2 separate regions of the Homo sapiens genome follow, and region 2 is linked to region 1. The links come from fine-mapping of genetic effects on gene expression. A gene starts in region 1. The other region holds a variant in brackets. All regions are shown on one strand. Distances are from middle to middle. Region 1 holds the start of COL10A1 (collagen type X alpha 1 chain). Region 2 overlaps NT5DC1 (5'-nucleotidase domain containing 1).

What was found. PIP is the estimated chance that this variant, and not a neighbour inherited with it, causes the effect. A credible set is the group of variants that fine-mapping cannot tell apart.
Region 2: its variant is the best candidate, but not a certain one, in a credible set for the expression of COL10A1 in blood mononuclear cells (TOPMed, PIP 0.74).

Annotation. Positions count from the first base shown.
Region 1 is chr6:116,121,757-116,138,729 of GRCh38, forward strand. COL10A1 (collagen type X alpha 1 chain) reads right to left here and starts at 4,376. Exons shown (of 3, transcript NM_000493.4): 1 at 4,297-4,376; 2 at 3,583-3,751; 3 at 1-205. The coding sequence starts at 3,736. The region is part of intron 6 of NT5DC1 (5'-nucleotidase domain containing 1); the gene reads left to right. It also overlaps the pseudogene NIP7P3. RefSeq lists an enhancer at 2,951-3,120 and a silencer at 6,410-6,704.
Region 2 is chr6:116,188,541-116,205,513 of GRCh38, forward strand. All of the region lies in intron 6 of NT5DC1 (5'-nucleotidase domain containing 1), which reads left to right. It also overlaps a transcript of COL10A1 not described here. Among named protein-coding and RNA genes, the nearest start is that of TSPYL4, 57 kb to the right of the region's middle. The variant A/G (reference allele first, on the strand shown) is at 8,385.

The DNA of each region.
Region 1 (16,973 bases):
CTCTCTCCTGGTTTTCCTGGGAGTCCTGGCACACCTGGTTTCCCTACAGCTGATGGTCCCGGTGGTCCTGGCAACCCTGGCTCTCCTTGGAGTCCAGGACTTCCGTAGCCTGGTTTTCCTGGTGGTCCAGAAGGACCTGGGTGCCCTCGAGGTCCAGCAGGGCCTGGTGGACCAGGAGTACCTTGCTCTCCTCTTACTGCTATACCTAAAAGACACACCCAACACACCCACCCATAGAAGGGGATGGTTAGTGACATTAAAGAGAATCATTGCCTTTCAAACTATGAATTGGGACACGATATTTCAGCATCATTTATTCCATGTAGACAGAACAGTCTGAAATGGTTTTAGATTATATGTTTTATACTGTTTTAAAAAATTCTGCTGGAGAAGATGGTTTCACAAAACCATGGCTACCATAATACTTTTATCCCATGACAGTGATTCATGAAAATGAGCTAGGATTGAAGAATTCCTCTAGAATAAGTGCAGTGGAGGTAAATTTAGTACATTTATTTTGGGAAAATCATGTACAGAAAAGGCAGAAAAAGACAGTGCAGAATAAGTGAGAAAATGTTTAAGAACTATAAAAATTTTCCCTCCCAAAGCTACCCTGTCAGACATAAAAGAGAAACAGAATTAATTCTGATTTACATCTGCCATGCCTCTGCTGAACACAGGTTAGATTTTGGTTGATTTACTTTTACCTCAGAATATACTCTGAGCTCTTATACTCTCCATTATTGACTTAAAATTGAAACAAAGAACTAGAGAATTAGACATAATAGGTGAGGTACATAAAATAGTATTAAAGTTCTTACCTAAATACAAATATATAGTGTTTGATTTCATAGAGCTGTGAGTTCACTTGACCTGATAAACTAAACTTAAACTAAAAATCATAGTGCCTGTGATGTGAAAAATGCGGCTGGGCCACAAGTATGGGGAAAGCACAGGGTACAGATGTTTCTGAGATTTGGAAAACATTTGGTGTATATAAATGCAGAGCGAATCATTAAAATAGATATGCCGAAATAGGAAAATAATTGTTTCAGATTTAGATTTTTTTTTACTAATTAGAGTTATATTTCAATTTGAAAACATTGATTAATATAAATACATAGAGCTTTCCCCATGGATTTTCAGAAAATGACATCAGGAAAAAGACTGTGAGAAAAATTTATGTAAAAGATTTCCGTATATTAAATATTTCATTGATTGTAGTGTACATACATGATTATATTATGTATAAGTGGATATTGATATATTGCAAATAGAGGAATAAATAAGGAATTTTTTAATGGGTTGGAGGAATAAAATAGTGGATTTTTTAAAATGCCAACTATGTTAGATTGAGCTTTGCTTTAGAATCTGATTATAAGGGTCATGTTCACACTAAAAATAATTGTCTTAGTCTGATTGGAAATCTGTTTTACTATTAAAAAGGAGAAACAAGTCAATGGAAATGAGTGCATTGGGCGTCATCCGAGACTGGAACTCCAGTGACAGGGCGAACTTTGTCACTTGGAATGTTGTCCTAATGGGTCTCAACTTCTCAGTGCGAGAAAGAATTTGGCTTCTATTGAATGCTTGGGGGACAGCCCCTGTTTGTAGGTTGTCATCTGAAAAAATTTTCTTCATTCAAGATTAGGGTGGCACAATCCTCAAGGTAAAACGACTACTTCCTTCTATTAAGTTTTTTAAATGCCACAAACTGAAATCGTGATTGGTTGTGTCAGAATGTGGCACGTGCATCTGCCCACCAGCTGTGGAATCCTCTGCAGCATAATTTAGTATGTTTTGACAGAACTCTTTTTTAACCTGTGTTGGATGGATATGCCTAGGAATTATGTAATAACTCTTTGAATTCCTGTTTCAACTTAATGTCTTACTTGTATAGACTGTGGGCTTTTGTGTTTGTTATGGTGCATTAATGTCTGCCAATGGATGATAGTGTAGTTGAGTGTCTATCTAAAAAGAGACTAAGGTGGATTTAGTAGTTTAAATACAGCTTCTGAACTTTTCATTTGTTAAGATATTTTCATTTGTTCTGCAAAAGTAGCCAAGATAATGGTGTATATTAAGAGAAGATCAAAGTATTTTTAACCTTCTAAAATAGTGCATTTTCTTTTTAATTCAAGACTTTGTTATGCTCTTATTAAGGTGTTAAAAAGTCTGATTTTTGTGATCATGGAAACTATTGAATCCAGTGCTGTTTGTCATAGCATTTCAAATTGTGTTTGTTGCTTCAAGTAAAGCGGAAGGTTGCTTTGTCTTTTATTTTTTTCTTTACTAGCCTTTAAATTTTAAAATTTTTATTTATATTTTGAGACATTCAAAAGTATCTGTTGTATACCTGTGCATTTATTTTCAAATATTAAGTTTCCTTTTGTGAAATATTTTAAATTCCATCTTTCTTCTTAAAAAGACAATTCTATAAGTTTCATTGCTCAAAATGGTTGTTCCCAAAAGCATAATATTTAAACTTTATAACAAATATCCTTAGCTTTATTTACAGTATAAAATATATAATTAAAAAATTATGGAAAGGGAGTTTGAAGCCTACAGTCAGTTTATATTATTCTGTAGATATTTTATAGGCGGTCGTGTCAGTTGCTGTTAAATAAAATTAGTGAATATGAGGCCTAGAAGTTGCCCTCCTTTGAGAACCTTAGTGCTTTACATATATTATCTCAGTAATCTTCAAAGAGTAACCAAGAAAACTGGACAGGTAAGCAACAGATTCAAGAAGAAAGTTAACTTATTGAAGGCTATATTAGTAGCTAAAAGTAGTAGAAATAAAACTAGGAGTAACAGAAGTAGTAGTAGAAGTAATAGCAACACTTAAAGCACTTTACAGGTATTAATTCATTTAAACTTCGCAGCAGCCCTTGAGATAGCTGCTCCTTATTTTACAAATGAGGAAACTAAGGCATGGGAGGACAAGTAACTTACCTCAGGTCACACAGCTTATGCATTACAGTTAAGTCTCTGCATTTTACCGCTAAACTATATTCAAAATGTATAAGTAATTATGAGAATTGCAGTTTCATTTGCCTGCTTGGCAATTCTCATAATTACATTTGTTCATTGTTGGGGGGGAGGCCATCAGATTTTTTTGATAAGACTCGGTTTTATATCTGTTTGTGGGCTAGTTGAATTAGTTTTAAAAGTAAATGTTTAATATTTAGCTAAATAAACCAGCTACCTTCTTTATACAATTGGCAGTTATTTTTAGCTTAAAATTTTTAAACTTGATTAGTTTTGATTAGATCAAGATTTCTGGATTACATGCAGTTATTTGTGCAAAAGCAGCATCTGAGAAAAAAATTTGTACACACAAAAGTTCTGATTTTTTGCAGGTATATCTTTCAACTATATTTTCAAGTATATCCTTTCTACTACACTTATTGGATATTCTTGTTCTACTTTTTTCACAGATCACTTTGTTGTAATAATTTGGGCTAATTCAGAAGTTGGAAAGTAACACCAAAGTTAAATGCATTTTGTTAAAGAGATTATTAAGATTATAGAAAGCAACAAGCAACTTGTTAATAGAACAAAATATACAATTCAATTTACCTTTACTCTTTATGGTGTAGGGAATGAAGAACTGTGTCTTGGTGTTGGGTAGTGGGCCTTTTATGCCTGTGGGCATTTGGTATCGTTCAGCGTAAAACACTCCATGAACCAAGTTCAAGGATACTAGCAGCAAAAAGGGTATTTGTGGCAGCATATTCTCAGATGGATTCTGAAAAACAGAAAAGAATAACTTTATACAGCATTGTTATTAACCTATTTTTTTATTCTCATGTTTCACAGATGAGTTCTTTATACAGTTATCTACTTTTTTAACCTATCCTATATATTTTTAATATGTGCCATAAATAAATGAGAGATCATTTTTTAGTTATGTGAATATATGTCTTAGTTATTTTTGGAAGCTATACTCAGGTAATCAAGTGAAAATAAAATGATTTACCTAAAGGAAAAGAAACAGAAATTAGGATTGGATGTCTGTATTAAATAATCTAGGATCTTTGACATAGCCTGAAATATCTAATAGTTTCAAAATACACTGAAATTCGGATTAGGGCAAATTTTTACAATATGGTTTTATTGGGACTATCATCCACAGACTGATGCAAAAAGAACTTTTGGAGTGCATTTTAGTAGAAACCCATTTTTTAAATCACTTTAATACTTCTAATACTTGAGAAAACTCAAGTATTTAAATCTTTAAAGTTTCTTTCCAAGCAAGTTAACATGGAAGTCCACCAGTAAGCGTACGCTTACCTGCGTGCTGGGAGTTCCTGGAGATGGTGCCTTGGCAGCTTTCTGAAGCTTCCTCTGCCCAGATGAGCAGTGCAGAAGGTGCCTCTCAAGAGCTGTTCAGTGGTATTTATACTGTTTTTCCCTTACTACATGAGGTTACCCTGAGCTTAAGCTCCTCCCCTCAAAGTTGGTAAGCACTAATTATGGTGGAAAGTTCTATTGGGTAGGCACACAAGATCGGGCTGGGCTCTCCTTTTCCTTGTTTTCTTATTTAAAAATAAACCCATTGTCTTAAATATATATTAATAGTTTTAACCAAGGACCGTCTTTGTCTGTGATTCTATTTTATTAATTAATACTCTAGTGTTCAGGCTGGTTCACGGTGGAATGATGATACCCCCTTTTTATTTTTGAAAAGCACATTCTTATGTTAATTGGTTGATATTATATAATATGTGGTAGTACATAAAAGCGGATAAAATTCCTTGAAGGGGGTACTGGATTTAGACCATCATCTAAATTATTGAGTTATTACATAAAGTTATCAATGTGTCTATTAATATTCATAAATTTTTGTGAAAATAGCTGACCCCAATTCTTAATTACTTTTAGGCTTTTAGGATTTAGATCCCTTATTCACAACACTACGCTATATTCAGTAAATGACTTCAGATTTTCTTGCTTAAATTTGGGTTTACTTTAGAGTTGCAGTAGAGTTTGCAAAAACCCCTTAATTTGATAATCTCATATTATGTTAATTTACATAAGATTGCTGTGTTTATTTCAGGAGAAAAAAATTTTCAAACTTTGCTTTCAGCTTAAAAAAAATATTATTGGCTTAACTTGCAGTTAGGAATCATCCCAATTAGAAACACTTTCCCTCAAAGGTGGAAGTAAACACTATTGTTGTCAATTTTGGTAGTTAGACTCTGTTTAACAATATTAGGAAGCCTTTAAAATCAGTTTTTAGGATCCTAAAAAATCTAATAAAGGTGGGAAGTTGAGAGTCCAAATTTTTCATCTTATTTAATTTCATCGTTTTGAATCAAAATCAAATTGACTATGCAGGTGAACTGGTTGAGGAGGACAATTCCATACACAGGCATAGACACATCATTTTTCTACCTCCACAGAATTAAAGTAGTATGGATTCAGGACTAATCAATAATTGAAATAATTGAAAGTTTGACCAGTGAATGAACTAAAGATTTGTCCTTTTTCTTTTCCCTTTCTCTCCCCTTCAAGCAATTTTCTGTATTTTAAACAAAGCCTTGTATAGCCCTTTATGGAAATGTAAATGGATAAGGCATCTCATTGCCTCTCTCCTCTTGCTTGTAAGCATTTTGTTGATTGCCATATTAAAAAAATTTACATTGTTGTATATATCTCTGTATAATACTCATAGATACATATAAAATATGTTTCTTATAGCAGTTTAGAATAACAAAATAGGAAAGTTTATAATTCATCATTTGGAAATTATATATGGAATAGCTTTTGTAATTATAATATGTACTCTGCTACATCTGTAGGAGACTACAAAAGATAAGTGAGAGAAAACACCTGCCTTTTGGCTTATGGCCCATTTGGACACAATTTTGAAAAAGTAGGTGAGGTAACTTTATGGATGCTTTTGAATGCTAGGTTGAATTTGTTTTGAAAGGAATTATTAAAATATATATTTTAATATTTTGTGTGTATATATGGTGATACACATGCACACACATACTGCTATTTGCTTATAATTGAGACTGATACCCTGTTAGTTATCACTCGTGAACGTTCAGAAGACTAATTCTCAGCTCTTAATACATAGTGCTATGCCCCTGTGTATACCATTTGTTCATCTGTGGCTATTGCAACAATTTTCAGAGCCTTTCACTTTAACCTCTCTGGGTGTCTGTTTTTTATCAACACAATGAAAAGTTTGGACTAGGTGGTTTCTAAGCTCCTCCCAGTTTTAAAATTAGATTATTCCTGTGCTTGAGGTATTCTGCTGTTCTCCATGGTCAGATGGTAGACTTGGCTCCAGTTAGTACTTATTAGAGACACAAAAAAATCCATACCAGGAGGTTGTATGTCTTCTTTTAGGGATATGTAAATATATGTGGGTATTTGTCATTCTATACTCCCCTTTAGTTTTGGAAAATGTGGTGTCCTTATTGAATAAGCCTTGGACATTCAACCCTTTTTGCAAATAGTGTACTTATTTCAGCACAAGGAATCTGACTGCTGTTTGCTTTGTTAGTCACATAAGAAGCACTGTCTTGTCCAAAACAGATTGTAGAATCAGAATATTTTCTAGCCACACCCCACCCAATTGTGTATTTAAAACTATTTTTACTCTGGGTGTTTACTTGTAGCTGTTTGAAGTGACTAGTCTGTGGCTTTATGAAGGAAACCCATTCCACTCAAAACAGAGAGCCATACTCTTTAAACTCTATAACCTGAGTAATTTTTTTAAATATCAAATATGAATAATGATTTTTTTCACATCTGGCAGTTAGCTACTATTAAGCTTGCCTATTCATTTGTACATCTGTGGATCGTTAATTAATTCACCTTATGTTTCTTAAGTGCTTCTTAAGTGTTAGACATTAAGATAAATACTGGGTGAATAATATATATTCTATACCCTTAAAGTGTTTACACAGTGGTTCTCAGCCTCTTTTCCCCACTCCTGCTGTCCTGAGGGAAATGCACAATTCCTTCAGCCTTTGAGGTTCATTAAAATAGTGGTGGTTCAAAGACTATATTTTCATGAAGCTCCTCAGGTGATCATGATGGCCTCCTAAGTTAGAATGTATAGTCTGATATCAGTGTTCTATTACCACCTTGTTAATATTAGTTACATTGGTTTTTGTTATTTGTGTTCATATGCTTTTTAAACTTTTTTACAGAAAACTTGTCTTTTATAGTAGTGAGAATAGTTACAATAAATGCCTATATGCCTGTCATTCAAACTGATCTCAACTCGCTGTCACTCAATTCTCTTTTCATTCACCACTCCTTCAAATTTTGAAGTAAATCCCATATATTGTACCAATTTACCTGTGAATATTTTGGTATATTTTTCCAGAAGAGAAGGAGTCTTTTTTCTTTAAAACAATGTCATCATCGTATTAAAAAATCAGCCATTTCTTAATATCATCAAATCCTGTAGTTCACATACATATATAGACATGTATATACACAAACATATGTATACACATGTCTATATTATATAGAAACACATACATACATATCCACATATATTTTTTATTGATTGATAAATTGTTTGTTGAAATTAGGTTGATTCATATATCCCTGTTGTCATGGTTTGAATGTATCCCCCAAAGTTCATGTGTTGGAAACTTAATTCTTAATGTAACAGTTTTGGCAAGTGGGATCTTTAAGAGGTGATGAGGTTGCGAGGACTATGCCCTCATAAATGGATTAATGTTATTGTGGGAATGGGTTAGTTGTTGTGAGAGTGGGCTTTATATAGAAGCAAGCTCGGCCCCCTTTTGCTCTCTTGCACACTTTTGCCCTCTTTTGCCCTTCTGCCTTCTGCCATGCGATACTACAGCATGAACGCTCTCTCCAGATACCGGTGCCATCCTCTTGGACTTCCTAGCCTTCAGAACTGTGTGCCGAATAAAGCTCTGTTCATCATAAATTACCCCGTCTGTGGCATTCTGTTATAGTAGTGTAAAATGGACTAAACCTGTTACTCTAGGTGTCTTGTGTCACTTTTTACTCCCTTGCAGTTTATTTGTTGAAAAGCCGTGTCATCTGTCTCATGCAATTTCCTGTGATCTAGAATTTGTTGTCACTTAACTTGCTACTGTGGAGATTGGTAGTTAAATCTAGAGTTTTCATCTGATTTCAGGTTTGAGATACACACATTCACTCACACACAGATACAGCACACACAAATACATTTTTTGGCAAGAACCCTTTACAGAGAGTGGTATGATATACTTCTGTTAGGAAGCCCTTAATTGCTGGTGTCTCTTTGGTGTTACTGGACATTGGTAATTGCCTACAGTCAATATTTTATTATAGGTTATAAAATGATGATATTCTGATTTTATCATTTGTATTTTATTTATTAGCTAGGATATTCTCTATAAAGAAAAACACCCCTTCATCAACTATTTGATTACCCTGAAGTACAGTGTGTATAGAAAAAGCAGGAGAAATGCCTTTACCAGCATTTAGAACAATAAGCTGCTCCCAGCATCCTCCACAGGTGTAGTGAGGAAAGTGTGTGTGTTTATCATTATAAACATTCAGTTTATAATGTATTGTATGTGTTTCAGTCCGTGGCACTTATTAATCTTACTATTGTTCAGAATTTTTTCCCCATTTTTGGCCAGTGAGAGCCTCTCCTCTACCAGTTGGCTCCTGAGTTCTTTTGACCATGATCCCAGTAGTTTTTTTTATAGCTTCTTTCCTTCTAATGTTTTGTACCTTTCGTGGCCCAGATCTACAATAAGACATTTCTCCACAGACTCTTAGTTTCTTTTGTGGGAAATAGAAACCACAGTCTGAGTGCCTGGATGTCTGGGTCCTAGGGATGCACATTGCTTCTGGGTTGGTCATTCTATCTAGTGAACAGCTAAGAAACGTATGCACAGGGTGTTCATTAAATATAAGATATATGATAACATTTTACTGATGTAGCCAATGCACATTCAGGACCACAGGTGTTTACTTAATGACCTCAATCTTGTATCTGTAGCTGCTTGGTCCCATGCTAAAAACCCTAGTACTCATGCCAGTAATATAGTTATTCATTTGTTTATTCCATGATACTCACAATTTCTCAAAATAAAAATACCAATATTCGTACCAGAATATTGAAAAAAAATATAAGCCGTTTGATTATGTTTGCAATTCTTTTGGTATTTTCACTAGAGCTGCATTACTGTGCTGTAAAGTCACATGACACAGTTGATTCAATGTGGTAATACTGCCCACTCAATTCACTGTTAGGTTTGTTTCATTTTGCTTTCAATTTTTATGAATGCTCTTTTTAAATTTAATTTGTTTTATACTTTCATAAAGTACATATGTTTTCTCTGGTGTTCGGATATATGTTTAACAACCAACCTGAGGGTGAAGGAGATGTGTTTGCTGATCTCCGTGGTATGGTCAGTTTCCAGAAAACCCGATCACAAAATACCTGAACATTCACCAAGAGCCAATATAAGCCAGCTCCAGCAAACATTGTATATTTCTGAAGTCAAATTTATAAAACAAGGAATATTCAGAGAAGGGTAGCCTCTGTTACTGACCTATCCACCCTGTGTTTCACCTTCCTTCTGTATGTAACTATTTTTAAAACATTGTTTTGATTTATCCTTTTTATTAAAAAATGTATTATTCATTTATATCCCTCCCAACTTCTTAAGTAAATGGCATCACAGTGTACATACTTTATTTTGTAAATGACTCAGTTTTTCTTGACCTGAACTGCAGCTTTATTATAGATAACAGTTTATATTGGAGATCATTGCAGAACATTGTGTAAAGATGGTCTGCATTCCTTTTTACAGCTTCATGGTACTCCATTGTATAGATGCACCATAGTTTTTTCAACCATTGCCCTATAGGTGGACATCTGTGTTATTTCCTGTCTTTTGCCAATACAAATACTTTTTTTTAACTTTTAAATTCAGGGGTACAAGTGCAGGTGTGTTACATAGGTAAACTTGTGTCATGGGGCTTTATTGTACAGTTTATTTCATCACCCAGGTATTAACCCTAGTATCCATTAGTTATTTTTCCTAATCCTCTTCCTCCTTCTACCCTCCACCCTCTGAAAGACCCCAGTGTGTGTTGTTCCTCTCTATGTGTCCATGGTTTCTTATCATTTAGCTCCTACTTATAAGTGAGAACATGCAGTATTTGGTGTTCTGTTCCTGTATTAGTTTGCTAAGGATAATGGCCTCCAGCACCACATGTGTTTCTGCAAAGGACATTATCTTATTGTTTTTTATGGCTGCATAGTATTCCATGGGGTATATGTACCACATTTTCTTTATCCAGTCTATCATTGATGGGTATTTAGGTTGATTCCATGTCTTTAACACAAATACTTTATAGTGAATAACTTTGTGTGTGGGTGTATATGTAGCCTGAATGTCTTTGGGAGAGAGTCATAGAATGGGGATTCATGGCCTTGTTTCCCCTCAGCATCACCAACAGGATATGTTGTTTAGATTTTGTTGAACTTTTTAATTTTTGTCCACCTTAGAGGTGAAAATTGGAATCTCAGTCTAGTTGTAGTTTTCATTCTTCTTACTGAAAGCATGGTTGAGTATCTTTTCATATAGCTTAGACCATTTCTCTAGCCTACTTTTCCTGTACATGTTCTATAACTTAAACCTCTGTTCTGTGATATAGTTTTCACATATTTTTCCCAGTTTATTTGTCTTTTTAATTTGCTTATGAGTTTTTTTTTTCATGTAAAACTTTCTTTTAAGGTACATATGTCTTTATTCAGAATATTATTGTTCTTTCATAGACTCAGCTGTAAGGGGCAGGAAAGTTCATCCACATCAATCATTTTATTTTTCAGACAAGGAAACTAGTTTATTATGCACATCCCCTGGCCTAATGTTTAACTGAGTTACATTTCTGATGTGACAAGCTGTTGGCGAGAGAGCCCACTGAGGGAAAACACCAGCGACTGGGCTAATGTGTTCACCCCCTGTTCTGGCAGGATACTGACTTTCCTGTTCTTCTAATCCTTCATCCTTTTAGGGTAGAAATGGGAAAAGTGCCGAGAAGTTTAGTCAGGGCACCTTCCACCACCACCTTGCTGTACCTCATTCCTCTTGAAAAAATTTTAAAAGAACATTCTTAGGTGCCATTATAGAGCCCAGAAGCTAAAAATGATCTATTTGTGTAAATAGTCTAATGTGCTTTAGTGGTTAGATACCTGCTGAGAGTTTGAAAAGAGAAATTCATGCATAAAAACAGGTGTTTATGAAAAACCCCTGAAACGTCAGATCAGGTCAAGAAAAACTGAGAGTCATTTACAAAGTTTTAACAAGGGCTTTATATTCTGTTTTCCGTTATACACAAATTGCTACATTACTTGAAGAGCTCATAGTTTCGTGCGCCAAGTGCTTAATGACATCACCTGCTTTCCATAGTAACCCAGCTGAGTTAAAAATATAGAATGTCTTGGCCCCTTGACCTAAGATCTTCAGGGATCTTGGCTACCCAATGGGTTCTCAACCATTCACACATGTTAGTTCCTACTCTGTTTACAACTTCAGCTTTCACATGCAGTTTCTGCTAAGTTGGAAGGAGAAATTATAGCAAATTAAAGTGTTAATTAGAGAAGTCACAGGGTAACACTTTTTATTTAGATCTCTTTGTTCCTCTGTTTGCCATCGTACTTGAGAACAACTCCACAGTCACCATCTATAGTGTACAAAGTAAAGTACTTGTAGGGTACACGAGTACCTGTAGAATATTAAGTACCTATAGGGCACCTGAGTACCTGTAGGGTCTGTGTGGCAACACAGACCACCAAGAAACCCATCGTCAAAACGGATACTTATGCAGCTATTTAACTTAATCATACTAACAATGAAAATACATCCCAGTAATGCTGGGCCCTTGTCTGTTTAGCCATTGATCAAATAATTGTGTTACCTCACCCACAGACCTCTTCCCTAATAGTGCAAAGATGCTAAGTGAGTCTTCCTGCCATCCCTGGTTCCTGCCTCTTGCCCACCAGTAATGCTGACCAGATCACCTGGCCTTTTTGCACCCTGGTTTCCTCTTTGCCTGCTTTCTTTCATATTTTAAAGGTAATTGCTATTTGGGAAAAATGTAACAAATAGAAAATAAAATGTATATACTATAGAGATATAATAACCATTAATAGTGGTTTTTTTCCCCCAGTGATCTTATTAGTGCTGAAATTCTTACTATCTTTAATAACTTATGAGTCAAAAATAACTCTTGCCACTTATGATGCTAATCAGGCGGAAGTTTAGACATGCTGTCATCTTCCCCTACTTTCTCTTAATTTTATATGTTAGGATCTTTGGAAAGTGAAATGACACATAAGTGGCAAAACAGTGCTTGGGAATGCTCCACAATTGTGATTGGTGATGATGACCATACTGGTGTCAAAGAGGTAAATATCTCTGATATTAGACAGTCTTCTCAAATAATTGTCAGACTTTTTCTGACCCTCTATGTATACCAGTTGCCAGGTTGGGTTCTAGGAATCTGGAGCAGGAGCTACTTCCTGCTGTAGACTCATGGAGATAAACGCCAGACACCAAAGCCTCTTATGGCCTCTGACTTCTTTAGTGTCTGTGTGAATCTATCTTCCAAATCATGAAATGGTGTTTTCTCATACTTTATACTCTTTCCTGAACGTAATTCAAGGACTATGGGTTATTTATTATTGAAAATCCACTCTATACAAGTAGTGCCTGTTATAAGGCATAGACCTTATAAATGTCCCTGAATGAAGGAACTAAGAGCGTCAGGACATCAGATTTCCATGTTTATTGAGGTGGATGGTTTGCCTCATGCTTGTGGATGCCCAGGGATAGGGCCATTCGCATGGTGCTGGTTTGGACCTGAGTCTTTCCAAACCTTTCCTTACCTTAAAATAATAACTTGGAATTCTTGTAGAGGTCCTAGTATTAACAACTTCTTCCCAAAGTAGTTTTCACAAAAGAAAATAACCGTGGTTGCTGTTCTAGTAAGTGTGTACCTTAAATTGTTCTACTGGCTGGCTAATAAGTTAGAATTTCAGAGATTTTTCAAAGACAGTTTTTCTGAAAGTAGGCATGGTAGGAGGATATAGATGTAAGAGGGTAGGTTCAGGTTGGGCCTGAGATGGAAAGAAAAAGGAGAAGAGCCCAGAATCTTGGGAGTTTAGAGAGATTTCTTTAAATATCTCAGAAACCTGAACTATGAAGTTTCAGAGCAACAAATAACTTTTTAGACATAGCTATGCTTCACTTTCCCATTATCTTTTACTCATCTGTACCCCATTTACTTATTGATACATTGATTTATTCAACTCTTCAATGTATTAAAAATATATTATATGCCAGGAAATAAAAATGGGCTCACAGACTACTGATATCATTTATTAGTTCTTTCCCTGCTCAGCCTACCTGTTAGCATCTTCTCTTGAATGGAAATACATATATGACCCTTAAAGGGGGAAGATGTTATTATTTGGGTTGTGAGTATTAGATAAATATTTTAGAACATTCAAGTTTATAAAATGAAAATTGGAGAATTGCATCAATATCATTAAAATACGAATATTAGAGCTGAAAGAGATACTAATCCAAGTAAGTACTAGAAAATGATATTTCATTTTTTTTCTGTAGCATCCATAACCGCCCCCCCCACCTTTTTATTTAACAACTCCATGTGAGTTCTCTAGATAATATTGGTAGAGCCCTCAGTTCTGCTTGTTATTCAGCAAAGTTATGCTTGGACAAAATTAACTTTTTTCTCATTAAAATCTTAGGTAATATTCCATTTCATTACTTGATGAACAATATAACTTCTATTACCAAAAGCATTTTGCACGAGCTATATTTAATATTTACTCTAGACTCATTGGACTTTAATTCAACTAACAAACATTTTTTTTTCCTGATATATATGCTGCTGGCAGTACTCTAAACTGTGGATCAACATACCCATCCCTGGTCATAGTTTCACAAATACTCAGCTTAAAAAATTTTTTTTCTGGCTTTATTGAGTTATAAGTGATAAATTAAAAGTATATATATTTATGGTATACAATATATTTTCAGATATATATATATATATATATATATATATATATATATATACACACATACACACACATTGCTAAATGGTTACCACAATCAAGCTAATTAACATATCCATTACATTGGTGAGAACACTTAAATACCTACTCTTTTAGCGTATTTTAAGTATATGATACAGTATCTCGAACTATAGTCACCATGCTGTACATTAGATTTCATGAACTTATTCATCCTACGTAACTGAAACTTTGTGCCACTTGAAAAACATCTCCCTGTGACCCTCCACTCTGCAGCCCTTGGCAGCCACCATTCTACTCCCTGCTTCTATGAATTTTGACTTTTTTAGGTTACACGTATGAGTGAGATCATGCAGTATTTGTCCTTCTGTGTCTGGTGTATTTCACTTAGCATATTGTGTTCTAGGTTCATCCATGTTGTCAAAAATAGCAGGATTTTCTTCTTTTTTAAGGCTGAATAATATTACATGTTGGTGTGTATGTATGTAATATGCACACTTTTTTTTTTAAAGGACAAGGGGGCTGACACCTGTCATTTCCCAGGCACTGTGTTACATGCTTTATAATCATGATTCTTCTAATTCTAAAAACCATTCTTAGGTAGATGGTTATAGCTATTTTTTTTAAGTTTTGTGGGGTTTTTTTTAAAAGAAGAAAATGAAGCTTATTAAGTGGAATGACTCATCCAAGGTCATTTAGCTGGTAGGCGGCAGAACTGGGGTTTGAACCCAAGTTTTTCTTCCACACCACATAACACTTACTATAAATTGCTGTTATTATTTGAGTCAAATTTCATTTGTGAAATCTCAGATGTGACTTACTGTTCTGATATGGCAGTATCTATCTTTCATATTAATAAACAGATAAAAATCCATATGCTGTTATCATGAGTTTGGAAAACAAAGTGTTATCACAGATAACAATAAGCTATTCTTGGCCTTAGTTCCAACGGTTTGGAATCTGTTACTCAGAACAAGAAGCCCTCAGATTCAGATACGAAACAGAATATTTAGTCACAAATGCAAAAATCTGAAACCCCAATTTTGAGCCATTTCTGTACAAGAAGAATCCAGCCTGTGTTTGTCGTGATGGATAGTATATAAACTAAGAAGACCTGAAGAGGTCATAGTGTTGACAAAATTCAACCCGATGGTGGAATACACACAAACACAGGAAACAAAGCTGGGCCTTTCCACACCACTGTTAAGTCCTTGCAGTGACTTCATTTTAAGTCACCGTCTCTTCATGCCACACATATTCACCAGTGTTTGCTTGATGAAATACCACAAATCGGTGGGGTCTCCTTTTCTGCAGTCTTGCGTAGATGTGGCTGCCACCCCAAAACCCAAAGGGATGTCTGCCACCACCACTTCCTGGCCAGGAGAAGTATTTTTCATGATTTGACTCAGACCAGATTTCAACATATCGTCTCCATATAGAAAGGACTGCTGTGCTCCAGGTTTTATCCACACTTTATACTTGGCATAGGGTGCAGGGTAATCCAGAGCTGTGATGTTCAACTGAAACTTGTAGGTTTTGGTGAATTTTCTGAAGCAGGTCACAGGGAAATCAGATATCAGTGCCAGCTTCAGAATCTTCTCACTCACGTAGTACACCTGGCCTTTGTGCAGCCGAGAACAGTAGGTGCCATTGAGCCTCTCAGCTGGCAGCTAGAGATTCTCCCTAATGTATTTCACAGTCTCCTCAAACATTACATGGGTCTCCTCTTTAGTCAAAGGCTGCGTTTTCCCACTGGGTTGGAACACTGGATCCCCGTGCCTCAGTAGTGGGAAACAAAAGTCCCACATTTTCTTTATCCCTTCAGCCATCAACAGACACTTAGACAAATGCTATTATTTACTGAACCAAGATATCTTTTATAAAATGCATGTGTGCAATACGTACCTGTTTATATGGAAAACCAGTTATCTTTTAGAGTTGTGAGAATCTATTAGAAAATGCCCAGCTTGGCCGGACGCACTGGCTTATGCCTGTAATCCCAGCATTTTGGGAGGCCGAGGCAGACGAATCACAAGGTCAAGAGTTCGAGACCAGCCTGACCAACATGGTGAAACCCCATCTCTACCAAAAATACAAAATTAGCCAGGCGTGGTGGTGTGTGTCTGTAATCCAAGCTACACAGGAGGCTTGGCAGGAGAATCGCTTGAACTTGGGAGGCAGAGGTTGCAGTGAGCCAAGATCACACCACTGCACTCCCGCCTGGGTGACAGAGTGAGACTCTGCTCAAAAAAAAAGAAAAGAAAGAAAATGTCCAGCTCAATAGCTGACATTTTAAGATCTTATGTGCTAGATCTAATTCTAACAACTTTGCATATATTATTTCATTTACTTGTCATAGCAGCCCCGTGAAGTAGGTACTATTATTATTCTCATCTTTAGAGATAAAGAATTTGAGGCCTAGAGGTTAAGCATCCTAGCCAAGATCACCATGGTAAAGCGACTGTTTTCTGTGGATATATTTCTTTAGGATTTATGAGAAACAGTATAATTCCAAGAATAGCACTACTTAACTAGGAACTACTGTGTTGGCTATTCCTTGTTAAGATTTGTGTGAAAGTGTAATCCCACTACGTCTGCTTTCCAAACCATCTCAAATTGGTGAACACTGTTTTTAATTCTTTACAATTGAAAGAGCTATGTTGTTTCAGTTCTAAAATGGGCTAGTTCAGAATTTGCTAATTAAAAACGAAGCTAATTGAAAAGCAAATAGTGCGAATGTCGATATATTTGTTTTTATTTCGAAGAAGTGTCAAACATGCTTATTTTTTAGGACATCATGGCTTGTTATAATGATTAAAAGGCAGAATAGTATGACTAAAAACTTCTCAATATTTTGGGAGACTTTTGAATTATTACTAATATATGAATCCTTACTAAT
Region 2 (16,973 bases), 67 kb after region 1:
TACATATTCTATGGTTGCATTTATAAAATAGATATTAAAATGGGTTACACTAGAGCATAATTAGGTAGTAAAGCCAGAAAAGTAAGGATGTACCATAGATATGAGGATAGCAATTACCTTTCAAGGGTGGTATCAGAGGACTTCTGGTATCCTGGAAATTTTCTACTTTTTTTTTTTTTACCTGATTAGCAATTACATGAATGTTTATAACATTTCAACCAAAGCACAGATTTATGTTTTTTGTCTTTTCTATGTGTGTGTATGTTTTATAATTTTTAAGATTATGTATAACTTCTGATTTAAGGAGAGAAGGCCTATTTCATAGCTGATACTCTGTTTTTTAATTTGGATCTGTTTATTTATAATTAAGCTTCACTACCATTTTGCAGAGTGGAGTTTAATTTATAATTGGAATGGATAAATAAAACATTATCATTGGCCCCACATTAGAACTTCACTGTATTTAAAACAGATTTTATAAATTCTAGAAGTTGTATCCTTGTATATTCACAGTTAAAGTCATTATCAGTTTTCTCATTGCAATTGATTTTTTAATAATTATTTTAATCAAGTTGAAATGAGATGTTTAGTAGTAATACCTTTCCTACTTGAATTTTGTTCTTTTTTTTAGTTGACCACTCTTGAGAAATTTATTTTAGGTACAAATTGTAATAAAAGTTTTACTTCTATTTATTAACTGGTACTTTTTTCTCTTGTAAACCTTTAGAATTGTGTAATTGATTGTGCATGTGTATATTTTTTCCCTCATTTTGAGGGCTAGTAAGCTCACAACCCGATTTGAGACTTACATATAGTTCCAGTATTGCAGTATATTTACATTTATTTTTTGTCTTCGTAGTCTTGACATTTTATTCTGATTTTCTTTAGCTTGGGATACTTATTCTTTATATACCTCCCTCTCATTTCTAACTATATTTTGCAAGCAATTTAGAACCTTTTTATATTTAGGAGGAGAAGACACAAATGAACATATAAACGAATGAGTATTGGATGACATTGAGTTGTGCTTGAGACTACTGGTTCTCTATAGTTCTTGTGTATTAAATAAAGTTCAAAAGTTTAAACCAGTTATGCAGACTGTTTTTCTATTTTTAAAAGGCCCTTGCCTGTCAAATGAGAGTAAATATTTATAGTTGGCCATGGTGAAATGTTCTGAGGATGAAAAAAAAATGATTTTAATAGAACAGCATCCTTAATAGAAGATGGATACAAAAATCCATTCATATGCAGGAACTAGAAAAGAATGAAGTAATGGTAGACAGCAGTTACTTAGTTACAGCTAAATGCTTCCGTTCAGGGGAAGCACATAATTCTCTTATTGTATACTATGCTATATGTATGTTTTTGCCTTTTAAGATTTTTAACTGATTTCAATAAAGAAGTAAATGTTTGTTGTTCTTTTACTAGTTTTCAGGTAGTGGCACAATAATGATATAATGGAAAGTACAGTGGCTCAGTTTAATGTGGGCAGATTATTTCATCTCTCTGAATCACTGTCAATACTTTTTTCAGCTTTATGGGAATAGCAATATCTATCACAGAGCTTGTAGTGGATATTACATAAGATGTAATATCTATATCATACCTGTTACATAGTGGCTGGTCAACATATGTTCATTTTCTCCTCTTCCCATCACCACACTTCTCAACCTTAGAAAGTCAGCATTCCCTGAGCCAAAACAGTATTTTTTAAATTATCTATGTATTTTTTCTTTTATCAATATATGAAATACTGTCTTTTTCCTTAAAAAATGAGATTATTACCATATGATAAAAGGAAGCAATTTTTTATATTTCTTATTTTGAAAGAGCAAAATAAGTTGTTTTGTTAGTAGACTTAGAAACAGAGGGGAAATGTGGATAGTTACTTGGATGAGGGATGAGAGGTGAGGAAGACAGTAGATAGGTTACAGAAGTTAGCGGCAGTGGTATCTGGAGAAAACAAAACAAGCATCCCCCCACCTCCCATCACATTAGTTGCCCTTTTTTACACAGCTAAAATTAAATTGAGAGGGAAAAGATGACAGTGGTTGTGGGGGTAAACACCCCATGCAGAAAGCCTCTACTTTTACACAACTCTGCTTTATTGGATCGTCAATAAAATCAAACAGGAAAGACTTCAGACCTGCAAAGCTGCCAAAAATGTAGTGGTCTCTGGATTCTTGACAACTGAACTGTGAGAGTCATGTGGTATGTAAAACGTCTGGAAAGAATCGTTCTGCTGAGGGGGCAAGTGACAGGTCTGCTGGATTTCAGTAATCCAAGAAGGTGCCAGAGACAGGTTCTCAGTTTCGTTGGGATGGGTTCTGTGTGGTGCTTCTACATGGCTCTCATTAGTGGTTACCCCTGTTTATAAGGATGAATACAAGGAAATCCTGGTATTCCAGAACTGGAAAAGACTTGAGAAATTAACTCCAGCTCTTTATTTTAAGTGAGGAAACTGAGGCTCAGAGGCCTCAAGTGACTTCCCCGAAGTTGCACAGTGAGTTGTTGTTAGAACTACAGCCAACACCCGAGTCTCTGAACTCCTGAGTTAAATGCAAATATCTGTGGAAACCAATTTTTTTAATGTAGGGTGTGATTCTACTCATGTAACCTTATTCAGCTCTGGAAGTCGATATCCTAAATAAAGAAAGAGAAATAAACAACTCCTACCCTTCCTTTGTAGTTTAGCAAGAATTTGTACCTCTGACCCAAACTCCAAGGACAAGTTGCTTCAAGATGCAAAACAAGGAAGAGCATCTGAGGTCTTTAAAAAATGTTAACCATAGTAAACAAACAAACAAAAGAAACCCTACTGTACTTACTGTGTGATGGCCCCCATTTCTCTCTGGAAGGGGAAGGAGAGGAGATTCACGGGAAAGAAGAGGAGGGAAAAATGTTTTACAGTGTAAGAGGTTTCTACTTAGTAAGTGCTTCATAAATATTTACTGATAGATGAAATAGCCTTCAACAATCACTGTCTAACTCAAAAAAGCTTTTTATGTAATAAATTATACCTTAAAATAGCCACATCTTTTCTCCTCAAGGTACGTGATACCACCAATTATATGAAATGTAGTGCAGTAGGAAAATACAGTCTGTCTAAACTAACTGTAAAGAAAATCCATTGCTAAAAAGAGTCAATAACATTGTCTTTTTTGTGTAATAATGTAGTTTATATAAGTTTCTAGGATTACTATCTAATGAGGTGTTTCTCCTAATACTTCAATCCTTAAAGTGTGTATATTGATGTACAGTATTTATATATTTGTATTCCCCAAACCTTAAGGCTGCCTGGTTCTCATTGCTCATTAATGTCCCCACCAACAAGGGAACAGGAGGCATTATCAGTGATAAATCAAATCAGTTTTGCTGCTTCCTGTAAGCTACATTGATTGCCATGATTTTTTGGACAGAACAAAGATGAGGTAGAAATTACGAGCAAACATGAGGATGAGGATGCAGGCTTATGAAACTCATCCAGTTAATCTCCCGTTAGCCCATTACTTAGGTGAAACTTGGTAATCATTAATATCATGATTAAGAATTTGTCATGTGGACTTAATTAGGTGGTTAGAGAGAGTGGTAGTCTGTGTGATGTTTAAGAAATGGTGTGAGTTCAGAGTTAACTGTGTGATTTTGCCAGTTAATTAACCTCTGTAAGTCTCTGTTTGCTCTTAAAATTGGGATAAGTTGTATTATGAGTGAGATAATATATGTGTTATGTTAAGCACAGTGCCTAATACATAGTGAGGAGCTCTCAATAAATATCAGCAGATAATATTAATAATGAAAAGGCATTATTTCCGTTTTGGGTATACTCGAATATTCTTTTAAGATGCCATTTCTACTTTAAAGGGTTATACATATTCCCCTCCATTATTTTAAAAAGAGAAAATTAGTACTAGGGTTTAACTATATACAGATGAAAGACTTGAAATGGACATTTTATGTTGCTCAAATTGGATTCTGTGTTTCTGTTAAGTAGGTATTGTTTTTAAAAAGCAAAACTTCCTAAACTATTTTCTTTTGATATAAAGTCAAAAATCAAATCTTAAAGTACATTAAGGAATGTTTACTTTGTATATTATAAAAAGTCAATATGAAGTTCAAAACTTTGTAACTGAATTTTGAGGTTTTGCCTTATACCTGTATAGAGAGTGTAAAACTTCAACTAACCAGAATCTATCTGGTCTGAGTACTAATACTTTGTCTTTATTTCTGTGTGCACATTTCCTCTATTACGATTTCCTCCTGGTATTAAGCTGAAACCTGCTTCTTTGGCCTCCTACTATTGGAAGGTGTGTCTTTTCTAGTCTCAACTTCCCCTGCTTTCTCACGTTGCATCTTCAGCAGACCCCAGTTGTCCTGACTGGTCTCTGGTTTGGCTTGACCTTAAAGTCAAAAGCCAGGATTGTTGCCAAGAAGCTATTTGTATGAGATATACTTAGTTTGTCAGAGTATTGTTGGGATCACTTTTCCTTTTTATGTAAATGCAGCATTACTAAAGCTGTACAGAATAGCTCCGTGCCTTACAGACTCTCATATATTACCTGAGAATATGCTTATGAACTTTTGGCCTTTCTTGACTATTCAGTTTGTTATTAGCAACTCTTTGTGTAATGGCCTTTTAGTTTATTTGTGTTTTACTCTTAGTTCTGCCAGTTTTTCACTGTTTATTTTTTAAAATCTTGCCCCATAGTATCCAGTAATAAATAAGAAGTGGAGATATTGTGCTTTCCTTATAGGAGTGCTGTGATAACAAAACCTATAAATAAAAAATTAGGATGTTTTACTTTTAAACAAAAGGCAGGAAGAGCCCGTGTGTTAGAAAGCTGTGGTGGAAGCAAAGAACACTGACGTTTGAAAAATGAAAACTTGATTTCAAATCTGGAACTTGCAACTTGCTTGCTGTGTGATCTTGGCTAAATCTCTGTTTCTCTAACTTTAAGTTACTTTGTAAAATGGAGAAGATATTTCCTAATTTATGGATTGAGAGAATAAAATAATATATGCAAGCAATGTTTCATAAACTGAAAGTCACTAATATACACAGAATATGTCTCATCTCTGTGCTAAGGGACAGTATGAGCAAATGGTTGTCTTTGTGTAAGCATTTAAAAACAAGAGTATTTTCAAAGCGTGCTTTAATTTTAACTCTGCTGTAATAAACCTTGAATCTTTCATCTTTGTTGTTGGACTTAAACATATAATTATACTGTTAAAAATAAAAAAAGAGGAGTTGGGCCAGGCACAATGGCTCACACCTATAATCCTAGCACTTTGGGAGGCCGAAACAGGCAGATCACTTGAGCCCAGTTGTTCGAAACCAGCCTAGGCAGCATGGCAAAAAATACAAAAAATACAGAAAGTAGTCAGATGTGGTGGCATGTATCTGTGGTCCCAGCTACTAGGTTGGCTGAGGTGGGAGGACCACCTAAGCCCAGGATCCATGATCACCCCACTGTACTCCAGCCTGGGCAACAGAGTGAAACCCTGTCTCAACAACAACAACAACAAAAGAATATTTGGTCAACAATAAATAAAGTAAAAGCAATTAGGAACTCCAGGTAAAGTAAGAAATTGTAGAATGATGTCATGGTCCAATCAGAATGTACAAAAAATGTGACATGATTTTGAGCAGTTGTGAAAATTAAGAAAAGGAAATCTATTTGATCTTTATTCTAGTAACATGTTCTTTCAAATGACGGAGTTTATAAAAATGGAACTCTAAAAATAGAAATGCAATTCTAGCACATTACTTGTTTTCACAACAAGTAATATTTATATTCATAACAGAGTAAACAGATTATTTACCTTTAATTTTTAGGAACAACTTAGAAACAAAGCCTAGAAAGGGTAGTTGACAATTTCGGGAAAAAAATGGCAGTCAGAGGCTAAGATGTGGAAGGGGACTGGGAATTGGTGAGAAGGGGAGAATCACTAATAGCCTATTTTATGTTGTGGGGAGTTAAAAATTGATTGAACAGATAGAACCTGAAGTATATTGTTTAAAGTTAGCAGTGGCCAGTAAAAGAATAAAACTATAACAACTGTGAGGGAGGGGTAAGAATAATAAAGGATAATGTGAATTCTCTTTATTTCTTAATGGGAAGTCAGTAGATGTTGTTTATGGCTTATGAACTAAGAACTACAAGTATAATTATATTATTTAGAGTTTTGAATGTAAATTATCAGAAGAGTTAGAAACAAATGACTAAAGGTAGTGGCTTTTGGGTACAATGCTGAAGTGGGGCAGGTATGGAGCTAGAACCTATTCTTTTCTATTATAAGACACTCTACATACTGTTGTAATATTTTTATGGTTTACATTATTAGTTTGATACAAGCATATTTTTCTAAGTACTGATAACCAAAAGTCATAGTTGGATACTGTGGCATATTTGCCATCCCCAAATCTGGAAGATATACAGTGATTATTCAAACCTAAAGTTACCTCACCTTCACCTTCCTGCCATCCATACTCTACCGCTCTCTCTATATTCTGCTTTGACTTCTAGGTAGCATGAATTGTTTTTGCTTGCCAGCCTAGGATCAGCCTATGTCACATTATATTTTATATCATCTCATTGTTAGTTCTCTTGTTCACTGAAATGTCAATCTGGTTAATTTCTATAAAATAAAACATACTGAAGTTATAATATAGGCATATGATAGTAAGAGAAACAGTGTATCTACTGCTTAGAAAATAACTTGCATGATACCAATATTTTATATCACAATTTCGCTATTAAAATTATACAGAGGAGAATATTAATTGACTCAAACATTGGAAATTTTTTTGGAAACACCATTTTCTGTATTTTTCTATTAAGTTTACCTTAACTTTTTTATTAAATTAACTTTTTTTTTATTCAAGAGGTCATAGTAGTTTACCAGATTAGGTTGGTCATGGCCAAATTGTGACCAAATCATTACTAAAATATTCATTTTTAAGAATAGTTCAATACAGGGATTCCAATGATAATCCATATATTCTGCTTTATATATGATTGTATTTGAAATGATTACTTTCATATCATTTATCTGCTCCCTCCCTCAAATGTACATAATCAGGGGTTAGAAAGATGGCTGGCTATCAGAACAGCTTTTAAATTTTTGGTTGGAAAAGGCACATCTTTAGAATATGGTAGACTCTCTTGTTAGCTAAATATATTCATTAAGATTGAAGTGTAGGCAGATTTAGATCAACAATAGCAACTAGTAGCAATTAAGCAAATTTAATGTGCACAGAACAGATGGTGGGATTGTGGGTGGGGACTGAAGACCAAAGAGATGCTATTTTCTAACAGTAACTTTAGAAGAGACCAAAAAGCTATTTTAAGCCACAAGTTGGAAAGGGGGAAGGTGGAGATGGAGAGAGATTCCTGCCTCTAACCATATTTGATGATGAGCATTTTGGTCAGTTATTCATTCTTCCATCCATCTGTCTAGTACTTGTTTGAGTACCTATTGTAACACTCATTGGTTGGTGTTGTCGGGTTGTTAAGGGGCTAAACTTGACATTCTGTTATCCCTGACATTCTGTTATTTCCTGACATCATGCTATCCACAAGAGTGAGATTGTATCTCAAAAGGACAGTCGTCCTTTCCTTATTACTCCTACTCCATAAGCATCTAACTTCCTTGATGACTTAAACCTCAAATCACCCAGCAATGACCTTCAGGAATTCCATTTTTTAACTGATAGATTAGTTATATTTTCCATATCACATTTGTTATTTCCTAAAAGTACATTTAAATCCTTAAATGTTTTTGAATTTTTGCATTGCTCTAACTACAGCAACAAAATATACACAATGGGAAAGAGTTCAGTTAATCAAAATTTAAACCAGTTTTACCTAATAGCATTTAAATCTTTTCTAAATTTTTCCCCAAACTATAAATCAACCATTATTAGTGATTAGTTTGATCTAGGGAAAAAAAAGTTTTCTCTTTGCCATTTGGTTTTTAATAGCACAAAGAAATTATATCAATTAGAAAAATACTCAAACTATTTGGATGTTATTTTATCAAATTATATATAGTATATAGAAAGTTGAGGTCAGGGGAACAGGAGGAGTAGCTTCATTACACTAAACAAAATAGTGTTTCTTTGTGTCTGCTATGACATTTTATGAGCATTTCACCAGCATTGCTGACTTTTTCTGGGTTGTGTTTGCTGCTTCTTAACTCTGCGGTGTTGGGAATGCTGGCTCACTCTCTCCACCTTTTCCTCTTCTACTTGTGCAGCCTTGTGTATGCTGTTTTTAACACTCACATAGTGCTTACCATGAGCCAGGCACCGTTCTTCATTAGACAGGGAAAGCAGATACTTCCTTTTCCTCCCCTCTTCTACTCTGGTGTTGGAGATATCCTCA[A/G]ATGGAATAGCCATGTTTTCTCCAGAGTTCTATCTAGTTGCATCTGACCAGCTCTTTTTCCTTTCATTTCTGGCAGACCTGGTGTCTGAGGGCTCCTCATTCTTCTACAGCTGTGTGTGTCCATCAGAGCCATAGCCTCAGAGCCAGAGGGTCACGGGAAGCAGGATCTCCTGTCCACCCCCACCTCCTTTCTCCATTTGTAGTGGGCCAGCTGCCCTCCTCACCTCTACTATCTTCTGCTCTCTACCTAGGGTCTGAAGAGGCATGAATCTTCATAGGCATCTGGCCACGGATCTGCTTTGCCTGGTTAATGATGTCGATGTCAGCTTTGTCCTCAACCACATACCATCCATAGTTTGTAGACACCATTCCCTTTACTGGTGGCCAACTGAGACTTATAACTGAACATTTTACAAAATCCACAAAAAGTCCTTGATTCTCTGCTAGGTCTCTGATTATCATCTTGTCTGATTTAAAATGCTAAGCAGAATTGAATCATTGGAAGATACTGGGAAGAATCTTCCCGGTCAAGAATCAACATTCTTGACCTTCACCACCTTTTACCTCTGCCACCCAAGTTTTAAGAACAAACAGCCAGGTACAGCGGTTAATAACAATAATTTTAGTTGCTGTAGTGCAGATAGAAGACAGTATAATACAGTAATGAAGGCACCCAAATGTCGGAGTTAGACTGTTAGAGATTCAAATACCATCTCTACTTTTTGATTGTTTAGCATTGGCCAATTGACACAATTACTTTTAAGTTCCACATGTGAAAATAAACTTGATAATGGTATTTATCTCATAGGATGTTATGCAGATTCAGTGAGATAATGTATAAAGAACTTAGCACAAGGACTGATGGATTGAAAGCGCTAGGTAAACATTTCTTCTTTATGTTTGCTACCATTGAGAAGCGTTTACATGTACCAGACATGCCAGTGCATTGACTACTTTATATACACATGTCTACTTCATTAGGAGCTCCACAAATAGCTTCACCCCAGATAGGGCTGCCACCAAAGCTCTCTGAATTTTGTCATAGAGGGCAGTGGCAATTTATGGCCCCAGGGCACCTAGCTTTGCTCAGAAAATGTCCTTCATCAGCTTGCTAGTGCCAAGAGTGAGCAAGCTTTTTCTAAATCTTCCAAGAGAGATCCTGGTAAATAAAAGGGTTATTTCTCCTGTCAAAGTGCTGGGTGGTCACCACATCAACAAATAGGGATTCAGTCACTCACTTCCTCTCCAAATTGAGGTCACTGAGTAGTGAACAACAGTTTCTGGGTAACAGCCATCTACTTGGTAAGGTTCACCCATTCATTCAAAGCCACGTAACTATTCCACACAGCTTGATCCTGAAACAGAAAACAGTCAATGTGGCCAGTAAATGATGGCTTATATGGAGATAGGCCTTTCCTTTTCAGGACCATTATATGTAACTGTGCTCATGCCCTGCTTGACTCAAGCAGCTTGTTTAAAGAGCATGCCTTCTTCTATTCGTCCCATACATAAGAACTACAGGTGGCTGGGTATAGTGACTCATGCTTATAATACCAGCAGTTTGGGAGGCTGAGGCAGAAGAATCACTTGAGGCCAGGAGTTCAAGACTAGCCTGGACAGCATAATGAGACCTCATCCCTAGAAAAAAAATTTAAAAATAGCCAGATCTGGTGGTGTGCACCTGCAGTCCTACCTGCTTGGGAGGCTGAGGCAGGATTGCTTGAGCCCAGGAGTTCAAAGTTACCTATGAGCTACGATCACACCACTGCACTCCAGCCTGGGCAACAGGGGAAGATCCTGTCTCTAAACAATATTTTTTTAAAAAAAGGACTACAGGAGTCTCTTATCTGATTTGAGAGCCATGTTTCTTAACCAAAGTGGGGACTTTTTCTTCTGATAGGCTAACTCATGAGGTCACAGAATGAGACAGAGTCTTCCATGGTGATCCCTCATAGCCACCAATAGAAAACTAATTCAGTTAGAATATAAACAGTGTAAATTAGATGAAGAATCTTCTAGTATTTATTCCTTTAGCTACCTTAGCACTATTGTCATCTTGAACTGGGTAATTCTTTGTTGGAGGAGCTGTTCTGTGCATTATATAATGTTTAGCAAGATCACTGGCCTCTATCCACTAGATGGTAGTAGCAGCACCCTCCACCCACCAGAAATTGCCAAATGTCCCTGGGGGGTGAGGGGAGCTAAATCACCCTCAGTCAAAAGCCGTAATGTATAAAAATATCTTTCCATGAAAGACAGACTCTCCAGTTGTTTCTTCTAGATAGACAAGAGAGTTTGTCAGTTACGCCTATTAAATTTTACCTTCTGAAAGGACTATCTTCTGGAAGTGCCTTTTTCCTTTTCTTATAGGTTGTTAATCTGGTCTTTGATGCTGTGTTCTCATCCAGAAGACATTAGATAGTCAAAGGACAGGGAACTACCATTAGAAGACTGAGTTTTATTCCAACACTGCTATTATTAGCCTTGGCACTGAGCAAATCCTTTAACTACTCTAAGCCTTAGTTTACCTATCTGTCATCAATGTTGTGGAAAGAGAAATATGTATGTACAAAAGCATCTTTAAAAAACAAAGAAGTCACCTAGCACTCAGATCTTAGTTTCTAACGCCATTCTCCAGTATTAGAAGCCAGGGCTCCTTGGAGAAATCTCTGACTTTAGGCCTGGGGCAGGAAATATACAAGATGACCTAGAGCATCTTGTAGTGCCAGAAGTAAATAAATGCTTTTTAAAAATTACAATGATGGAGGTGTGTAAAAGGGACACAGGAATTAAAGGATAGAGCTCCCAATGGCTAATGCTGGAACAATTTGAGAACAAAATAAATAAAGTAGTATGGAATTATAACCCAGAGTATAAAATAACCATCAATGAGTCTGGTATAAATAAGTGATTAACAAGTAAATAAATGGGGAGAAGAGACTAATCTACCACACAAAATATTTCCAAAATAGTTTATGCACACATTTTACCTTCAAGAAGGTAGAGCATGAATTTTTACTCCTTAAGGGTAGCCTGTGCATTGTACTTCCTTACAAAGAGTACAGTATGGAAAGTGGGGGGGGAAGAGTAACTTTGCAGTGGGGCAACCTGACAAATACTGTCCTGGCCAAATCATCCAGGTCAACATCAACAGTGACCCTTAATAGTATATACCCTTAATATAACATGAGAGTGGCACTTTATCTCCATGGTCTTCCACCCAATAACACATAACCCAGTCTAATGAAAAAGTCAGACAAATCCCAATTGAAGGACATTCTACAAAATATCTAACTAGTACTCCATAAAACTGTCAAAGTTACCAAAAACAGGGGAGGTCTGAAACTATGTCACGGTCAAGAGTAACCTAAGGAGACATAACCAGTAAACGTAATATGGTATCCTGGATGGGATCCTGGCACAGAAAAGAGACATTAGGTAAAAATTAAGGAAATCTAAATGAAGTGAGGACTTTAGTTAATAATAATGTATTGGTATTGCTTCACTAATTGTGACAAATGTACCATAATATTGAAAGATATTGATAGGGAAATTGAGTGTGAGGTGTATGGGAACTCTGGACTATCTTTGTAATTTTTCTGTCCATCTAAAACTACTAAAATTAAAATTTTATTTTAAAAAGCATAGCTAAATAAAGGTAAGACACTATTATAAGTAATGGTTATTTTATCCAGAAGGATATTATCGAGCTCTGGTATATAATTCCCTTAGTTTTAAAAGTCTATTCATGAAGTCATTCCTCAACTTCTCTCTCTGGGTGATATTTAATGTCCTTATGGATCGTACTTCATCTCTTCTCCCACTAGCTTGGAGCAGTTTCAGGTTCCCAGCTAAAGAAACTGAAGGATATCACATAACAGTTCTTCACCTTCTTGGCATAAATCCTGTGGCAGACCATGTTTACTTTTTCTTCTGAGGAAATCCACATATGCTCCCTTCTTCTTCCCCCACCCACTCAGAAATACAGCTGCCTTACAACTTACCAGTGCTTTTTTCTAACCAAGGTCTGAAAGGTTCTCTGTTTAGTTTCTTTGTTCTCAAGAGGAATGGAAAAAAGCGGGAAGGTACTATGGTAGCACCCCACAGCACCAACTTGCCCAGTAGGAGTGAAGTACTAACTTGCCCAATAGGAGTGAAGTACCAACTTGCCCAAGAGGTACTGCACCTAGATGTGTGCAGAATAAGAAGGTGAGATAAGGGGATCCTTCAGAATGAGTCACCACATGTAAAATCTTGGAGGGACAATACATGAGCAGATAAAAAAGTTTAATATAGGTAACTACAATTAGTTACCTCTATGATACTCTTGCCTTTTTGGCTGTAGCCATTATAACTAACTGTGTAATTGGAAGTCATTCCCACCACCTTTATTTCAGTGAACAGTATTGTTTATTCATTCTGGGCATATTGCACTGTATAAAGGTATGTATTTGAACATAGTTTGTTACAGAAATTGAATTTAGAATCACTCCAGTATATAGAGTAGTGTTCTGTAATCCGTTGGTGGAGAAGAATTGACCAATCAAATTTCCCTAATGAGACCAGTGACTTATGGGACTGCCTCGGTAATGCTTTTCAGTTCTGAGAACTTCAGTGAGGTGAGCATTTGCCAGAGTCAGGTTTACTGATGATATTAAAAGTCTTGGTTAATATAAAGATAATAGGGCAAACAACATGTGCTTACTATTATTTAGGCTTGTTTGACATCCCTTCCCACCCATGAAGTCGGGAAGGTAATATGTGGCCACTTCTGACATGTGAGGTCATGGGCAAGGACATGCAGCCGAAAGAAACACAGGTGTACAGCCTAAGCCACTTGATTCTGGGCAGAGTATTTCCCCTTCTAGCCTGCACTGAAGCCTTGGCATGGTTTCATGATTATAATTATTGCCTCTACTTTTTTAAATGCTCTATTTCTGGACCAAATCATGTTTGCTTATTATTTGGATCCAAATGCCACACTGGTAGATTTATGCACCTACAGCTGATAATTTTAGGAACTGTGAAATAAAGTTAATTTACACCTGGAGGAGTGCTGACCAATAGAACTTCCTGGAGTGAAGAAATAGTCTATATCCAGGCTGTCCAGTGTGGTAGCCATTAACCACATGTGGCTACCGAGCACTTGAAATGTGGCAGGGAGTTGCAGGAACTGACTTAAATTTTACTTAATTTAACTTGAAGTAGCCACGTGTGGCCCATACCTGCTAGAGCACCAGTCTAGACAGTGTAGGAATCCTCCATGTGATGCAGGCTCCCCTACCTTAGCTCTGGGCCTTCCTTGCACACACTTGGCTATTCTTTTCGAGAAAACATTTCTGTAGTACCTTTTTTTCTTATGCTTAGCATGGTTGGAATACATAGATCAGTAGCAGAACAAAGTTCCTTCTCAATTTTGGCCCACTTAAATCTAAAGCTGTAAGTTCTTAAACTCATCACTAAAAAATAAAATTCACTGAGTTTTGTTCGCCATACTCTTTTTTAGGGGAAACGAGGAAACAATGATCCCATATGTTCTTGATTCCACCTTTAAGAGTTTCAACCTTTAGAAAATTATTATTGGCAATAGGTTTATTTCTTTAATTCTAAAAACAAAGGCTATTTTCTTTTACAGATGCAAATCTGTTAATTTGATGCCTGCAAAGTTCAGTGACACTAAGTTTAGATTGAGTGGTATTTACAGAGTCATATGAAAATCCAGTCACATGATGTTTGTTAGGTTAAGAATGGCATTCTGAGATTATAGTCTAGGAAAGGGGGAACTGCAGTGTACAGTTTCATAAATGCATTGCAGATAAACATTAAAATATTAAGACAATGACAGCTATTTTTATTATTGTTAACTTGAGCAAGTAAATTCAGAAGCTCTATGGAAAGAATCAGAAAAAGTGACAGTTCTTAATTACCTCACATTTCCTTAACTAGAAAATCTTAAGGAGTGAGGAAAGTACAAAGGCAACAAATATTACTAGGGGTAATGTAGTAATGCAAAAAGGGAGGGAGGGGCTGTCTCATAATAAACTTTTACTTTTCCAAACATGGTTTTTCACTTAATACAAGTGGTTTTTTAAATTTAATTTAATACACAAATTTTTTCCCACAGATTATGATATTAAACATTTTTATGGTAGGACACAGGAAATAGTGAAGTTATATAAAATGTCACTTAATGCAAATTTGAACAAACCAAATTACCAAGTGGTTGCTTTTCTATACTAAACAGTTTTACAGTATTGTATTAGATTCTCATTTAATGTGAGTCTTTCATTTCTGATTTAACACTTGTTTTTATTCTATTTCTTGGATTCATTTTCATGGTCATGAAACTATTATGTCAGTTCTTTATTATTACTTTACTATACATTGTTATTAAATGTGAACATATTTTCAGCTAATAGAGCCCTGCAGTCCGCCAGAAGCTCTCTTCATGCTCCCTTCTAGCCAACATCCCTTTCCTGGAGAGACACCTAACACCACAGATTAATTTTGTCTCATTTTTTATTTTATATATGTAATTATGCAGTATGTATTTTCCTGCATCTAGTGGCTCTTCCTCAACATTATGCTCCTATAATGTCTCCCTGTTACTGAATGTCACAGTAATTCATTAATTTTCATTGCTGTACAATATGCCATTATATTAATATAACTACACCACATTTTATTTATTCATCCTACCCTTGGTAGACGTGAGTTAATTTAATTGGGGACTGTTATAAATAATGCCTCATGAACATCATTTACATGTGATTTTCATGCCTATTTACATGTTACCCTTAGAGCTACACCTAGAATTAGAATTGCCACATTATAGGGTGTATTTGTGAGTTCAGTTTTAGTAGGAACTGCCAAATAATTTTTCAAAGTACTTGCACAGTGTGAGTTCCAGATACCTTATATTCTCAATATCTTCACCAGTACTTGATGTTGTCAGAAATATTTTTTGCCACTTGATATCTATAATTATTATCATAATTTACCTTTTAGAGAACACCAGTAGTTTTAGACGACAGATGCCCTGACACACACACGGTGATCATCAAATATACCTATTCCCAGCTCTCCATAGACCCGCTGAAAAAAAACCCTCGAAGGCTGTGGCCTCTGACCCAGCTCACTTTGGGCAGTATAATTTGGAATTTGGTCCTGCAGTGAAACACCTGGGTAAGGGAGAGGACGATGCACTGCTGTGAGCCTGAAGGCTTTTGGTGGGGTAAGAAACACTTCAGGAGTTAATACCACCGAGTTTGTCAAGTGCTCTCAGAGTGTGTTTGTTGAATTTTTATAATAAAGTAACTTCATAAATAGCCCTCAATTTACTCAGTTGAATACAACAAATTGCTTTTTGGTAATTACTTCATTCTCAGCCTTGAATGTAGAAATGTAAAAGGGATGAGAGGTAGTGACTGAGAAAGATTCAAAAAGATGCACTACCTAATTAGTAATCAGGGAAATGCAAGGTAAAACAATGAGATGTCCACTTTCACTTAGTATATCAGCAAAAATTAAGATCTGACAGTATGACCTGATGAGAGTGTGGGGTAAGTGTACACACATATATGCTGCTAACAATGTTAAAAACTATTGTCCCCAACAATTCTGAAAGCAAACTCAGTGTAAATATTAAGATTAGAAACGCAGATATGCAATGAGCCAGCCGTTTAACATTTATAAGCCCTAAAGAAGTACTCATATGTATACATGGACTCAGATACAATGTTGTTTACTCCAGAATTTATAATGAAAAAAATCACCAAAGTACTGTTGTATTCATATGCTGGATTGCAATGTTGTGGTTAAAAAGAATGAAGCGTTTCTAGAATGTAAGGTCTATGAGAGAAAAAACTTTGTCCATGTTTTCAACAAGTAGAACAATGAATAGTGTGTAGTAGGTGCTCAGTAATTATTTGTTATAATTACATGGCTAGATTTAAGTACGTGGCTAGATTTTGAAGTCATTTTTTTGGGTGAGGAAAGCAAATTGCACAAAATGTGTACTAGAAAATACATGTATATGTGTGTGTAAGTCCATAACACCTTATTGGAAAGATACACACCAAAATGTGAACTACATATGTGTGTATGCAAGTCCGTAGAAATTTATCTGAAAAGTATACAGTGCAGAAGTGTCCAAGCAAATAATACATTCATGGGTTCTTAGTTTCTGTTTCTGGTTAGGCCGGTAAAACCCCTTCCTCATCCCTCTTTTCTGCTTATCATTACAGACAGAAACTAAAAACCATGTCTTCAGGCTGCTAAAAGCCTAAAACAAAACAAAATAGAACAACAACAAAATAAGCTGGGCTGGACAAGCTTGGTGTGACACTAAAATGACAACAATGATACTAGGGACCAGAAACTGAGAGTACTATTTAGAGAAGACTTCAGACTTTTTTTTTATGTTTCAAAATTTAGAACATATATTTGGAAATTTGGAAGTGTTCACATATCTTACTTGAGTAATTACGAGATAATTTTAAAATAACATTTAACCTTAGAAAGATAATTTCCCTGTTATCTGGTAGGTTGGAACTTAACTGAGTCAGCAGCTTCTCCCTCTGGAGCCCC